2 separate regions of the Homo sapiens genome follow, and region 1 is linked to region 2. The links come from fine-mapping of genetic effects on gene expression. Tissue or cell type: lung. Region 2 holds a variant in brackets; the other region holds the start of a gene. All regions are shown on one strand. Distances are between the middles of the regions.

Region 1 (8,185 bases), 120 kb after region 2:
CTTCCGGGTTCACGCCATTCTCCTGCCTCAGCCTCCCGAGTAGATGGGACTACAAGCGCCCGCCACCACGCCCGGCTAATTTTTTGTATTTTTAGTGGAGACGGGGTTTCACCATGTTAGCCAGGATGGTCTTCATCTCCTGACCTCGTGATCCGTCCGCCTCGGCCTCCCAAAGTGCTGGGATTACAGGCGTGAGCCACCGCGCCCGGCCAAGAGTGGAAGTTCTTAACTAAGAAAGAAAGAGCTCTCTGCAGCAGAGAGGGATCCTAAAGAAATGGGTTGTCCTGGGGGAAATTCTTTAACAATGTAAATAATTCTGTTCCTCTTAAAATTTTCACATAACAGTTCAGCATCCATGGATGAATCTTGCTTGAATTAATTATTGCTATGATGGTTTCAAAGTAGTAATTTTCTAACTCTCTTTGTCTATATTTTTTAGTTGGCATCATTTGTAAACTTTTTAATAATGACTAGGGTTAGAAATCATTTAACTCAAGATTTTCCATCCATTTTCAGCCAAAGTGAAGCAATTTTCTTTTAAAGTCTAGGCATCTGAAATCCTGAATATCTCAAGTCACTGTTTAGCACTAGTTTCTAACGTGGACTTGTTGAGGGCTTATATTTGATCCCCGACCCCCACCCACCCTCTTCCAGGACTGAGCACTGAGTGGAAATTGCTGATGGAGTAGACAGGATGGGGAGAAAGGAAACTGCAGGTTGCCAACAAGAAAGAAGGAGGGAAAAAGTGGCTGCTGGTGGAGACTGACTGCAGGGCAGGAACATCAGCCTGGGATGCAACAGGCAAAAATGACACAAGATCAGCCAGGAAACCAGGAGCACCCAAACGGGGACAGATGTCTCCTTTTACAATACCAAATGTTCATCTGTCACAGCCCCAAAGACACATCCACCTGAAAACTGCCCAAGATTTCTGGGGTATAATAGAGTTAGATGTTTCCAACATTACCTAAACATGCCTGGCTGATCCTAAGAAATTATTCTTACAAACAGATTAAAGTGACTTCAAAACTAAACACCTATAAAAGGAAGTACTAATAATGCAACATATGCCATAAATGGAATAAAAAAATAAAATAGCGCTTCACTACTTTTGTGTTCTGGAAACAAAATATTATCTGGAATACTTGTCACTGAGGAAATCATGAAATAGTTCAGTACCCAAGTACCACCACTTTATATAACAGACTGGGATCTCAAAGTTCCTCACGATTTCATGATAACTTACTGAAAACCTAGTTGAAGCTCTCGAGTTCCCCTTTTCTCCTCTGGAATCTGCCCTTAGACAGCATGCTATCTAGATATAAGAACATTTTCTATTGGCTATGTTCTTTTTTGTGAACATTATAAGTTTCCAGGCAAATATTTTAAAAATATCTCCATATTTTATATAATTTACATGCTACATTCATATAGAAGGTCTTTCTGGATTCTCTCCAGAAATGACTGGAATAGAATACTTGGATTTCGCCTGGTTTTAGAACCAATTTTTCCCTCAAGGGGAAATTTTGTGGGGGAGAAAAATGGGGGTTGAGGGAAGCACTCAGCTATAGCCCTAAGGCAATATTGTGCCCAGGTTTGATTTATCTTATCGAGGTCATGTAGTCACTGCATGGTGACAAGACAGGACTGCTAAAGAAGTGATCATCACTCTGTTCCTACCTCCCTCTCACCTGTCACTTCCTCACCTGCAGAGGTAAGGAGAAGGACAGAGGAACAGTAGTTCCTGTATCACTGGAACTTGTTAGAAATGTGAATTCTCAGGATGCACCCCAGACTTACTGAATCAGGAACTCTGGGAGTGAAGTCCAGCGATCTGTTTGAATAAGTCCTCTGAGTAACTCTGATGCATGTTAAAGTTTAAGACCTCCTTTTTAAAAATACTGATGTCAGGGTCTTTTTTAAAGCTCTCTGGAGTAATTCTAATATGCAACTAGGACTAAGAACCAGAGCTAACTAAAGAATTCTGTATCTGGGAGAAGCCCTGGGCTCTACGTTTTCAAAATCATCTCCATGCTAACAGAAGGTTGTAGGACTTCGGGCTGCAAACATGGTCAAGCTTTGCGGGAAATTTTTCAAGACACTGACTGAGAATACTTTCCTTCTCTCCCTTTTGATAGTAGGGACACATAGTAAGCCTCTCACATTAGTTTTGAATAAGAAAAAAGACAAAATAATGTTTCTCCACAGTTTGGAAACCTTTCAGATTTCTAGCTCCATCTCAGCTAAGAAAGAACATAAGATTGAGCCTAAAAAACTGGTCAAGAGCTGAGATGGTCAGATATCATCATAATTTTTTCATAAACAAAATCAATGGGCAAAAGTTTGATTCTTCAGTACAGTTGAGTATACCATATAAGGAAGTAGAAGAAACATCAATCTAAATAAATTGGTATGGAAGCATCTCAGTTTATTTTTCTAGGGTACTAAATGTATCATCTTAACCAAAACATAAGAAAGTAAATAGCAGAACAGTGTCTCACTGCATGTGTGTGATGCACAGTTGCTGGTAGATACTTTGAACCCCTTTGCCTTTGTTTTTCATTAATAACACAATAAGGCCAAATCTCATGATCTCCTTCTTTGTTGAGTCTTACTTTGTTAAGTAAAGCTTCAACCATAATTTTTTTTCTAAACACACACACACACGAATGGAATCACACTTTGTATAAATGAACAGAGCTGAGGAAAGGGAAATTTGGCCCAAATTAGCTGATTTTACTGGAAACACCTGATCAACATTTTTCTCTTTAAAAAGGAGGAAAGCATGTTGGTATCCCCACACATATCAGATGATGGCAAAACAGCAGGGAGAGGACAACCACCATTTACTGAAGGCCACCTGTGTGCCCATCGCTTGTAAGAGCTATGAATGACAGCCTTGTCCTAATTTAGAGAAACTGAGGACAGTGCCATGGTCCCACTGCTAGGGAATTCTAGAGAGATAAAATACAGGTCTGTTTGACTACAAAAACTCAAGCTCTCCACACTATCCTAAAGCTGTGTTCTTGGCTGGGATGATTGTTTACAAGAAAAATAATAAATTATTGCAGAAATTTTGACATCTCATTTTCCCATCTCTTTTCCTCCTCACCTCTCAAAAAAAAAAAAAAAAAAATACCTTCCAAAGGGCCTCTGTAGCCAGCACACCATTTGATTTTTGTTTTTTTCCTCTGTGGCCCAGACTGGAGTGCAATGGCAGGGTCATAGCTCACAGCAGCCTCGCACTCCTGGGCTCAAGTGATCCTCCCGCCTCGGCCTCCCAAAGTGCTGGGATTACAGGCCTGAGCCAGCACATCCAGCCCCATTCACTCATCTAATGAAGTCCCTAACATGCGCCACACCTGTGCTAGGGACTTTGGATGCTAGGTACGCAGGTGTGACTTGGTTTTACTCTGAACTCCCTTTGAAGCTTCACTAATACGTATCTGGCTTCAAACGCAACTAACTTAACCAGTTTTCACAGACGGGATTCCAATTTCCAAAGGCACTGAGCCATAAGAGCAGCGGTGCCAAGATGCCAAAAGCAGGCCAACCCAGCGCCTTCCAACGCTTCCATTCAGAGTTTCAACCTGATGTCTCCAGGCACTCCTCCCACCCACTGACCATGGTAACCAGATGCGGTCTCCAGCCGGCCTTGTGCTGCCCGCTGCGAATACAGCCCGTGGGCCACCGGGCAGCCGAGCCATGCAAGCCACCCTGATCCCCAAAAGGCAGACGCACAAACCCGACCCAGAACTCGAGGCGAACCTTGAACTCACAGCGCCAAAAACGCGCAGTGCCTTCGTTTGCCCGGCTCGCTGAAGGCTGGCTCTGGGCCTGGGGGCAGTGCCCGCGAAGGGCTGCGATGGCAGGCCCCGCTGCCACACGGCATCGAGGGTCCCTCCGCCTCGGCGCCAGGCGCACGCCCTTCTGCCACATCCCTCGCGGGGCGCGCCGCCAGGGCCACCTGCCCTTTCAAGCCCCGCCAGGCAGCCAAGGGTGAGGAGCGGAGAGGGACCCGGCCGCTGCTGCCGCGAGCCAGCACAAAGGCAGCGTCTGAAATCGAACTTCCCACCCTGGGCACCGCGGCCTCCCCCCACCCCTGGCCTCCGCGGCCGGAGCGCACTCACTGTCAGTCGCCATGGTCGGACGAGGGGGCTGCCCGACGGCCGCCCAGGTTCGGGAAACCGGCGCCGAGCCCGGCCGGGCGCGCGCTCCTCGGCAGGCCCGGTGCGCTCGGGGGCCGCGCCGCGCACAGCCCCTCCTGCCGCGCGCCCCCGCCGCGCCGCGCCGCCCCGCGCCGCCCCGCGCCCAGCAGCCGCCAGCCCTGCGGCCGCCGCCGGCGTCCTGAGAGCCCAGCCTCCCGGGCAGAACGGCCGAGCTGCGGCGCCTAGAGGCTGGATCTCCCCCTCCTCGCCTCGCCGCGTCCGTCCCCCTCCCCTCCTTTCCTTTCCCGCCCCTCCCCCAAAGAGGATGCTCGCCGCAACTTGGAAACACGCTCCCGGCCACGCTAGGGTCGCCTCTCCACGCCACCTTTCCTACAACGTTCCCGCTATATCCTTGTTTTCGAGTCACCTTTTCCATTCTCCGCTTCATCCCTACCTCGAGCTTCTCACCAGCGGGGTTGGGACCCCATGCTCAGCCCCAGCTGGAAGGAGCAAAGCGGGAGAAGAGCTAGGGGTGTGGGGAGGATGAGCCAGGTGCTGGGCATTAATCCTCCGGGGCAGGAGCTCTCCTGCGAAACCGCTCAACGCCATCTCCGTAGGCTCCAAGTGGGCCGTGCTCTTCATGTCACCCTCTGTTTTGTCTCCGATGTGAAAATAGTTCCCAGCACGTAGTAGGCTCTCAGCAGATTTCTGTTGAGTGGGTGAATGGATGTCTTTATAACTGGATGCCTGCATGAATGAATGAATGAATGGCCAACTAACTGATTGGACGTCCACTGGATGAGCAACTGATACATGATCATAGCCAACTACAGCCCTGCCACTGACTAGGGATGGACGCTAGAGTAAGTAAGTGGACCAGGCCGAATGAGTGAGCCGGAGTCTTGTGCCTCACAGGCCATTGTGGTTCAGGAGGGCTCTGAACTGAGGCTGTCAGTTCAGAATGATGTTGTATACATCTTCTTGAAGTCCAAAAACCAATTTCTGATGGATTATTGGATTATTCTGCCATTACTTTTGCACCAACCTAATATATTAGGGGACAGTTGTACATTAGAAACCCCCGTCTCCACCACCAGATCCATCATGTGAAGGATCAAATGGCTCAAACACATCCCCTAAATTACATGGCAGGCTAGATACTTCTTAAAGATACAATACATTTCGCCCAGGCATGGTGGCTTAAGCCTGTAATCCCAACACTTTGGGAGGCCAAAGTAGGAGAATCACTTTAGCCCGGGAGTTCAAGTCTGCAGTAAACTATGATTGCACCACTGCACTCCAGCCTGGGTGAAAGAGCAAGACCCTGTCCCTAGTTTTTAAAAGAAGAAAAAAGGGCCGGGTTCACGCCTGTAATCCTAGCACTTTGAGAGGTCTAGGCAGGTGGATAGCTTGAGCCCAAGAGTTTGAGACAAGCCTGGGCAACATAGTGAGACCCTGTCTCTAGAAAAAATAAAACAAAAATTAGCCAGGCTGGTGGTGCATGCCTGTGGTCCCAGCTACTCAGTAGGCTGAGGGGGAAGATCACTTGAGGCTGGGAGGTGAAGGCCGCAGTGAGCTGAGATCATACTACTGCACTCCAGCCTGGGTGACAGAATGAGACCCTGTCTTAAAAATAAAATAAAATAAAAATACAAAGATACAATCCATTTGATGCATTTGGAGATGCACATTCAACCCAATCAGCCCCGGGCTGGATGCTGAGAAGACTCAGGAGCAAGGCTCCCGTCTGCCTATCCACTAGCTCCCACGTGGCTAGGCAGACAGAAAACTGCCAGAGAACAACACAGGAGTCCTCTCTGGTCAGTTCACAGAGCACGATGAGGGAGAGAATATTCTGATCAGGCTCCACATTCTGATTCAGTCCACCTAGAGTAGCACTTAGGGGTGTCCTTTTTTTAAATTGTGTTTAGCCTTTATTTGTTTTAACACAGGTGATTCTGAAGCAGACTTCTAGTTAAGAACCACAGAGACCTGGTTCATTTGTCTTTCACAACAACCATCTGCAGTAGACCCAAAAGCCAACACTCTGGAAGTGGGTTGGATGGGGAAAAGGAAAAAAGAATTAAACATGACCCTGGAGTCTTTAACCTGTTTGGAGCTCACAAACCAGGAGGTTAAAGGAAAAAAGAATTAAACATGACCCTGGAGTCTTCAACCTGTTTGGAGCTCACAAACCAGGAGGTTAAGCTGGTGTGAGGGCAAAAAGGGTGGGTTGGGCTTGGATTCAATTGAAGGGTCAGTGGAACATGTGTGAGGCTCCTTATGCATTAATCAAACTGGCTTTTCCAAATGAGAAAAAGGAAAAAAAATGACAATTCAAAGGATATGTTCAATAAATGATTTCTGAATAATGGACCTGTTGGATAGCAGGTTTGCATAGCACCAGATGTCAGATGAGAAGGGGTTAATGAACAAGTAGATTTCATAGAGGCGGAGGCCCCAAGCATAGATAATTCTCTTAAAAAGTTTAATGGTGAAGGAATGAAAGAGGATGGAGAGCTTTGGAAGAGAGCAGGATCAAGATAAGATGGGTTTTTTGTTTTGTTTTGCTTTAAGATAGATTTCTGTACACATATTCAAGTATTTAATATATAAAAGAATAAATTTTCACTTTTCTATAACCAAATTAACTTTCTGGCCCAAGCCCCTATTAGACCCATTGTTAGGGAGTTTGATTTTACTCAGTTCAAGGTAAACATCGATTCAGGCTTTTCTCAGGCAATTCAGAGTTTTCCTTCCCCATTTTTTCTTGGGGTTGCATCCATGTTTGGAAGGACAGGTTGGGTAGCATCAGGGATGGTAAGAGGTATCAGGCCCCATCTGTCCCTTTTGGGAGGTACCTCTTCTGTCTGGACCTCAGAGCTCGTCAGACCTCCACAGCCATGAGTGTGGGTGGCAGCCACCACTCTGTCTTCTCCTCCACACCAAAGCCCCTTCAGGTCTGACTTTTTCTCCTTGACTTTCCTGTTGCTCTGGAGAGGACAAGTTTGGCTACTCACCCATTCCATTCTAAGAAAACAGTGAGATCTGTGGAGTCTCAGGCCTTTTCTAACAAGCCAAACAACCATTTCTTTCTTACCATTCCCTTACTATGTGGTGGAGGGGAGCTCTGCATGATGGACCACCAAGCAAGACATTTAATGTGACATGAGACAAAGGTCCCCTTATGGCTCAATTTCCCCAGCCTATCTGGAAGTTCTACCACCTCCCAGCCAATGCATGACAATGGGATGCTTTTCTAAGAAGGGGTATTGGATGTTTTCAGCCCCATGTAACTGCATAAGGTGGCTTAAACAATAACACACCTTGTTATATATCAAGGGATCCACCCGTGGTTGATTTAGCATCTCCACAACGCCCATAAGAACTTGGACTCCCCACTTTCCTCCTCGGCAGTAAGGCTGCTGCAGCACAAAATCTCCCAAATCTGGTAGGAGAGGGGGATATTCCTCCTTGTCATTCTCACTCTTTTTTTTTCTTTTTTCTTTTTTTTTTTAATTTGAGACAGAGTCTCACTCTGTCTCCCAGGCTGGAGTGCAGTGGTGTGATCTTGGCTCACTGTAACCTCAGCCTCCCGGGTTTAAGTGATTCTCCTGCCTCAGCCTCCCGAGTAGCTGGGATTACAGGCTTCCACCACCATGCCCAGCTAATTTTTGTATTTTTAGTAGAGACAGGGTTTCACCATGTTGGCCAGGACGGTCTCAATCTCCTGACCTCAAGTAATCCACCCACCTCAGCCTCCCAAAGTGCTGGGGTTACAGGCGTGAGCCACCGCGCCCAGCCTCGTCTCTTTCTTTTTATCAGAGAAAGAAATCTTTGTAAAAGCCCTCAAAGGCCTTCTCCACCATTCTGGTGGCACTGGAGGCTGGGAACGCAAGCATCTGTTATTTTCAGCGTTTATGGCACAAAGTGGATTCTGCCAACAAGGAAGAAGGGGGTGGGAATGACTGCCTGGCCCACCGTCAGTGTCTGCCATCGTCTTCGTATACCCTCGGCAGACTCTTGCCTCACTGCTG
Region 2 (8,185 bases):
AATTATTACTGGTTTATATATGAGCTGAAGCCTGAATGGTAGAGCTGTGAATCTGAGCCCTTGGAGTCCTTGGATGATGAAGCATTTAACGAGGCATCACTAAGGGATAGCTAGTGACTGGTAAAGTCCTGGCAGCGGCTGACCCAAGGCAGGCCACTGGCACAGGGAAAGAGGCTGGCGTTTGTGCAATTAACCCTACTGAGCCAGAGAACCTCACCTTCAACACTGATAGGCATGTGTTTGTCTATAGATCCCAAGCTAACATAACAAAAGGAGCACTACCCCTCCCCATTGTAACATGCCCGTCCAAACTTTCCCTTAGATTGTAACTCTTGCTTCCAAATAAGTGGTCCTTCTGCACGGGAAAGGGGCAAATGTCACAGTCTCCCCTAAGGCCCAGGAAGCCTTTCATTTCAGTGGAGTCTGGAAGGGAAGGCAAAGCCTATCTGTGATTATTCAAGCAGATCTGCCCCCAGGCAAGCAAAACATACAGACCTTGTCAACCATTCCGGTTCTCAGTCTGATCTAGGAACAGCCGGTCTGAAGAGCATTCCAGGGAAGCCTGCCCCACCACTATGTGGGTGACAAAAGGAAAACCTGAGAGGGAGGGAAATGGAGAAGGGGCCAAGCAAGATCTGAATCTCCAGGGAAGCTACTCAGAACAAAGACAAGCAGAATAATAATTATTATACTTTATACTTACATGGCATTTACTATGTGCCAGGCACTTTATGCTCATTTAAATCTGACAGGGGTCCTAAGACATTGAAATTATTATTATTATCACTTAACAGATGAGAAATATACTGAGGCTTAGAGAATGACTTATCCAAAGTTGCAGAATGCTGTGTCAGAGCCAGAATTTTACCCTGGCAGTCTGGCTCAAGACCCTATTTTAATCACTCTGCTATTCTGCCTTATCATAGGTTTTTAGGGGATTTTTTTGTTGTTGTTTATTTGAAGCTAGAATGCAACAGACACTGTCAATAGGGATTCAGTGGCCGTGAGGAGAGCCATTTAGTCTCAAATCAAGAGAGAGGAACAAGAATTTGGAAGCAATAACATGAGGACCTTTAAGCATCAGCCTAAGCCAGTAGATGGAAACAGAAAAAAAAAAATAGAAATAAAAGGAATGTCACCTCAAAAGCTGAGGTTAAAGAATTCAAAAATATGTGCTAACCCCGTGAAAAGGACAATAATGAAAACTATGTAGTTGCAACTTAATGCATCTGTTTATTCTGTATATTCTGTTCATCTTCAGAGATTTCCTCACATCATTATAAAAATTATCATGCACATAAACAGTTGACTGCAATAAATATGGTAAGAAACGAGCATTGCCAGAGTTTTTTTGAAAAAAAAGGAGAAAGGCTGCTAATTCTAAGATTGGGAGTTGAAAAGCCCCCAGATGACATCAGCCTAAATTCTCCTAGAAAAGAATGACAGGAAGCTGGCTCAGGGAACTTTCTCTGTGGAGGTGACCCATTTTATCACCATAGATAGGACTCAGGTGTACAGTGAGGGCCTGGGATGAGAGGTCAGGGGAGGTGCTTGGCCTCTGTCCTTCCATTCGTCCTTTTTCTTCCCCCTTAGACACTGTGATGGACTGAACTGTGTCTCCCATAAAATTCACAGATTGAAATCCTAACCCCTAGTACCTCAGAAGGTCACTGTATTTGGAGATAAGGTCTTTAGAGAGAAGATAAAATGAGGGCTTAAAAGTGGGCCCAGATCCAACACGACTGGCATCCTCATAAAAAGAGGAAATCTGGCCACAGGCATGTACACACGTGAAGGAAAGATCGTATGAAGACAGAAGGAGATGGCCATGTAGAGCCCAAGCAAAGAAGCCTCAGAATGGATCCAATCATGCGGACACCTTGATCTCAGACTTCTGTCCTCCAGGACTGTGAGAAAATAGATCTCTGCTGTTGAAGCTTTGCAGTTGGTGGCATTTGTGAAAGCAGCACTAGTGGACTAATACAGTGTCTTTCGTAAACTGTAGGTGTGCACAGGAGGATTATTTGCTAGCTGTCTCACTGAACAACCATGTGCTTCCTGGCCCTAAAACAGACTGCCAGTTAGTGCTTTGGGGGGATTATGCATCCATCAGGAACAGGAGGAGAGAATAATTAAAGGTCCTCCAGACTTCTATAGCAAAGTTCCCAGACACATAATGCCCTGGTTCATGTCCTTTTTTGGTTTTTTTGTTTTTGTTTTTATTTGAGACCAAGTCTCACTCTGTTGCCCAGGCTGGAGTGCAGTGGCACGATCTCAGCTCACTACAACCTCTGCCTACTGGGTTCAAGCAATTCTCCTGCCTCAGCCTCCCAAGTAGCTGGGATTATAGGCACCCGCCACCATGCCCAGCTAATTTTTGTATTTTTAGTAGAGACGAGGTTTCACCATGCTGGCCAGGCTGGTCTCGGGCTCCTGACCTTAAGTGATCCGCCCGCCTTGGCCTCCCAAAGTGCTGGAATTACAGGCGTGAGCCACCGCACCCAGCCTCATGTCTGTCCTTTTTATATCCTTTAGGAATTACCACAAAATCCCTTTAGAGTCTGTTTCCACACTCCCTCTGTCCCCTAAATTCATCCTTCTTAGCATCAAACAAAATTCATCTTCACCTGTTTTTTAACCATGTCAGTCCCCCTTAGCTGGTGTTAATGGTTTCTCATTAGCTACAATATAAAGCCCAAATTCCTTTGCTTGTCTCTTAAGGATACCCCTTAAATCCTTTTGCTTGTCTCTTAAGGTCAACTCCAGGTTTATCCCACTGTGCCCCCAAAGGAAGCCTTGTAGTTCCACAGAGTTAACAACCTCAGCGCATTGCCCTGGAGAGAGCATTATTTATTCATTTCTAGGCCTCTGGACCTTTAATCCAATCCCCTCCCCAAGAATGCCTTCCTAGTCAAGTCCCCTCCCACCCAGCCAACCCTGAAGGTGAACTGTATGGCACTCCCACACTACTTACCTGGCAAACATCTCGTATCTGGCAAGCTGGGCAGCTGTTTTCTACTTTGTGAAGCCCTTGAAGGCCCACGTCTAATATTCCTTGTATCCTCCCCACCCAGCTCATACAGTGTCTATCACAGGGTTTTGGGTACAGTATCATTCAATAAACACCAGGGAAGCAGATAAGGAGGAAAACGTGTGAAAGCAGAGCCTGTAGCAATCCCCACCCTGTTTGCGTATCTCATTTCTTAAAAAGTTCTTTATCCTTCGGTAATTAATTGAAAAATTAAACTTATAGTCTAGATATGTGGTCTCATCCCTCCAAGTTTCCTGTCTGAAACACTCTGTGTGTGTGTGTGTGTGTGTGTGTGTGTGTGTTGCGGGGTAGGAGGTTGGGGCAACAGAAGAGGCCTCAGATGAAAGTTAAAATGGGTATTCCTCAATGGACTGTAAACTCCTCAAAGGCAGGACACTCATATGCCATTTTGACCCTTATACTTGTACAAGCGGGTATTCTGTCAATATGTGTGATTGACACATAGACACATGGATCAATTATAAGCCTGACCATAAACATGGGAGTCCCTGGGGTTTCCCACTGCCAAGTTAGGGACAAGTTTCCATCCTTCCTCTTTCCTCTAGTTCTCTAACCCAACAAAGCCAAATGCCACATCATATCTGGGAAGCCTGGTGCCTAAAGCTGACTTCCATTTCTGCCACTGAAACAACAATAATCTCTTATTGAAAATTGTCCCAACACTCTCCAGATCTCCATGGAAAGGCAAGTGGGGCTTCCTGCCCATCCACAGTGGCTGTACATCAAGAAATTACCCTGACTGGTCCTGAGATAATTAGAGACTTTGTCAGCAAACGCTTCAGTAATTTTAACCAAAAAGGCAGAGGAGCAGTGGAGATTGAGCACAGGTCGGAGTTGGAAACTGATAAATAAAATCTAAAAGCTAAGTAAGTCTTACAGCTCCTATGTACCTTACTTTCAAAGGACTTCCCCTCATAATTGGCAAAGTAAGGAAGTTAGTCTTCCCCCAGGGCAAAGGATCGCCTTTTCTTTTCAAGAACTCACTAAACCAATTAACTCTGTTAAACAAGGAGAGAAAACATTTCAAACTGCAAGGCATGGTTGCCATTAACACTGGCCTTGCTCCAGCAATTACAAATGATAACCAACTTTAAAAATCATGATGAACTACTGCTTCAAAGCAAAATCAGTTTAAAGCAAATGTAAACTTTGAAGCTCTTAGAAATAGAATCACAGAGACATCACCATCCACGGGGAAATCCCTGCTCCAGCCAGCCCAGCTTCCACTGAAGCAAGTGATAGCACCGTTCCTGGCACAGTCTTTTTTGCTGGCTTTTGCTGTCTGTAAGACAAGTTCATGGTTATGCTGGACAGCTGATGAGGATTTTTAGTCCTTGTAAATTCACCAATGAGAACAATTTGTTCAGATTTCACAAAACAAGGATGCACGGGTACCCCTTGTGACATCAGGTATAAATGCTGCCATTTTTAGAAAACCTGAAAACAGGTTGAATTGTTCAAGGAAGGGAACATGTCAGGCCCAGCAGCCTGAGGGTGATGAAAAGTTGCCGAGGATGGTACCT[G/A]GGCTTGTGACCCTCTCTCTGGGAGCGTCAAAGAGCTAAGGCAATCATGTAAAGGAACATGGCTATAGAGGCAGACATAGAACGGAGGAGGGGACAGACAGGTGGCACAGGGAGCAGAGAGAAAGTCCGGGGGATGTGGAAAATGAAGAGAGAAAAAGTGATAGAGGAGGTGCAGCAACATCATTACATTCTAAAATGCAAATTCTCTATGGAATCTCGGGACAATTATGGCAGGACCTCTTCCCTGTGTTATTCCTAATCAAAATAAGAAATGTATTTCTGTGACGTTACCACTGATGATTAGTGAACTCATTAGCCGCCTTGTGGCACTGGGAGTCAGTCACTTCCAGCTGATAGAATGATGCTCTGCCCTATCTATCCCCCAGCAGCCGGAACAAATTTAAAATGATCTAGTATCAACTTTTTCATTTCTACTAAACCATAGTTATCAGTACTTTTTTCTTTGCTGGGAAATCATGGCAGAAAATGATGACTCCTCATGCATTGCTATGGAAACCCTAAAACTTCCTCTAGAAACCATCAAAAAGAGGCAGCGCATAACCCCACTCTGACTCTCAATCACGATTCTCTCCAAGGAAGAAAACTGAAAATCAGATGGATTCATTCCGAGTTCCTTTTTCCAATCAAACAGATGGGATTTAGATAAGCTCTTAAAGCAAATTGTGATTCATATAATAATATGTAAACTTATCTCAAATCTCAGAGGTTTTTTTTCTAAAGAAGATTCCAATAATTAAAGCAGTGCTATACAACTGAAATTCCATTAAAGCAATATAGTTAGACACAAGTTTCTCAGAGCTAAAACATTTACAAACCCTGGCTGAAGGGTCAGAATACTTGCGCCCTTTACTCAATGTATTAAAACATTGATGATTATGAAAAAATGTACTATTAAAACACATAACAAAATGTTTTCATATGTTCTTATTTAATGATTTCTAAAATACATTCAAAAGAACCTACTATGTGCTTACCACGATGCAAAGCAAGATCAAGAACAAACTAACCATAATTACTACCAGAAACATCCTTCTAACTCTACCGACTTAGAGCCCACATGGGACACATCCAGGTGAAGGTCCTAAATTCACAGGCCAAACACTTTCCCAGAGAAACTCTAGGTTGAAGGGAAACTGCCACGTGTCGACTCTGTGCTTGGTCCGTTTCACCACCCCAACAACTAGATCGGTTTTCTTACCCTCACTGGTATAGATCAGGACACACAGGCTTAGAGAATGACCAAGGTGCCCATTGGTTACAAAGCCCCAGTTAGGTGAAGAGCCAGGCTAGGCCAGTACCAGCGACCAAGGCTTAGGACTTTTCTTCTGCAGGCAGCAGAATGACTCTGGCTAAAAAATGCAACCAAACTATAATGAAAAAATATGCAAAGACCACCAGATAGAAAGAAAAGGGAACAAATAAGACATGAAAAGGGCCAGAATGAGGACAGTGTGGGCATCTGCGTAGGAGAAATTAATGGGAGCCACTGTCGGCGTGAATCAGCTTCAATCACCGCAGGGCCTTGAGTTCCCCTATTGAAAGGTCATGCTGACCTCTTGGCTGGAGGAGCAAGGCCATCTGATTGACAGCCCCACCCAAACTGCCTGCAATGGAAAGTAGTGCCGCCCCCAAGTAAAATTAGAGGGGAAAAAGGAATGGGCAAAAAGAAATAACTGTAGAAGGTGATGGATATATTAATTTGCTTGCCTGTGGTAATCATTTTCCCATACATATCAAAATATCATGTTGCACACCTTAAATTTATGCAATAAATAAATTTTGAAAATAAAAAGGAAGAAGGAATGAAAATACTCTTTCGCAAAACTGTACTGAGTTCACGATAATAAAATTGCCATAATGTACCCAAGCCACAAAGTTTTAAACTCTGGGAAGTGTATTGCAAGTCCACTTTGTTTTCACTATGGGTTACAAATGAATTAAACAGAGAAGAGTCATCTTCAAATAATGGGATTTTAGATCTGAAAGGAACCTCAGAGGTCAACTAGAACAATTCTATCACTTTGCAGGTAAGGAAACAGGATTTGTCCCAGGTTCCACAAGCTAGTGAGAGGCAGAACTAGAATGGAGCTTGCCTCAGTCCAGACCAATCTCTGCCCACTATGCTGCATCCAACGCTTTTGGGTCACCACAATAAAATCTCAATGTGGTGAAATAACTTAGTCATCTCCTTATAGCACTGGCTATAATAATACATCTAAGCACGTGCTACCCACAAGTGTAGTCCCAAACCACATCATTTCTTCCCAGAGTTTCCTTTGCATAACAGTGCCTCAATTCCGGTATTACATGTCAGTTTAGGATTTACACATTCATAAAGCATTCTACATTTTTTGTCATACAGAGGTTTTCTCAGGCTGAATCACCACTTTAACAACAAAAAAAGAAACTTGAGATGATTAACATTTAATGGGGACTTGTTGACTTGCCATGTACTTTTTAAGCCATTTACATATAGGTACAAAAAAATGTAAGCAGAGAATGATTTGAAGAAATAGAAAAATAGAAATCAACTAAATGTCAAAATGAAAGAAAGGTTGAATCAAATGATAGTATATCTATGTGATTTAAAAAGCAAACAAAATAAGTTTATACAATCATGAATGTTATAAGCATAGAAATATCTCATAAGCTGGTTGAATGAAAAGTTTATACAGAAAAAGTATATGCAGCAAAATCTTTATTTCCACAAAAACAATAGTAATACATGAATGTATGTGTGCATATATATATATGACTATGTACTTGTATACATACATATATACACACACTCTCATATATACACACAAATATGCATGTGTACGTGTGTATATATATGTATATATACACATACACACAATTTGTATTAAAATGCTAATTTGGAGACTAGGGAAATAGAATATAAGTATTTTTAAATATCCTCCTTATTTTCTATTCTTCTAGTATAGACTGTTTTTTTCTTAAATAGAAAATAGCTTATTTTGTAAATGTCCAAACGCTTTGCCAGCTAGGCAGTACTCCACTGTGTCTGATAACCTAACCCTCACTATCTACCCTGAGCCATCATACTAACAGGAACAGTGCTGGCCTCTGCACACAACTAGCCCTTTAGCTGGGAAGGGGTCACATTGTGAGTGCACACTCTCCCAGAGACTAGGGCAAGAGGAGGTAAATGGTGACCAGAACAGCTCAACTCTGAAAAGGACAGTTTTGTTTTGTTTCTCCTGGCATCTCTTTTGTTTCAGAGTCCATGGATTGATTAGAACAGCTCTTCACCCTTGGACTTTTGAGAGAAAAATCACATAACTGTACTATACAGTCCTACATTCAGGGATGAGTATAGGGTAGAGGCTGGGAAAACAGGGTGAAAGAGTCAGGTTTGATTATTCCAACTTTCACTGATTTTATTTTGTAATTTTAGGGACACTAAGTGAGACCTCTTGCTTCAGATTCAGATACCTTCTTTCTATAGCCAGAATCTTTGTGAAAACAGACAATGGGAAAGGAGCTTTGTGTCTGTCTCTTCCCCTCCTCCCGGCTCTCATCTCTGACAGGCAGCATGGTGATTTAACTGTCAGCACTAAGTGGCACA

The links. PIP is the estimated chance that this variant, and not a neighbour inherited with it, causes the effect.
Region 1: it holds the start of SYT16, and the variant in region 2 is the best candidate, but not a certain one, in a credible set for the expression of SYT16 in lung (TOPMed, PIP 0.72).

Annotation. Positions count from the first base shown.
Region 1 is chr14:61,808,756-61,816,940 of GRCh38, reverse strand. It overlaps SYT16 (synaptotagmin 16), which reads right to left and starts at 4,238. Exons shown (of 8, transcript NM_001367656.1): 1 at 4,131-4,238.
Region 2 is chr14:61,933,175-61,941,359 of GRCh38, reverse strand. The region is part of intron 1 of SYT16 (synaptotagmin 16); the gene reads right to left. Among named protein-coding and RNA genes, the nearest start is that of SYT16, 120 kb to the right of the region's middle. The variant G/A (reference allele first, on the strand shown) is at 4,576.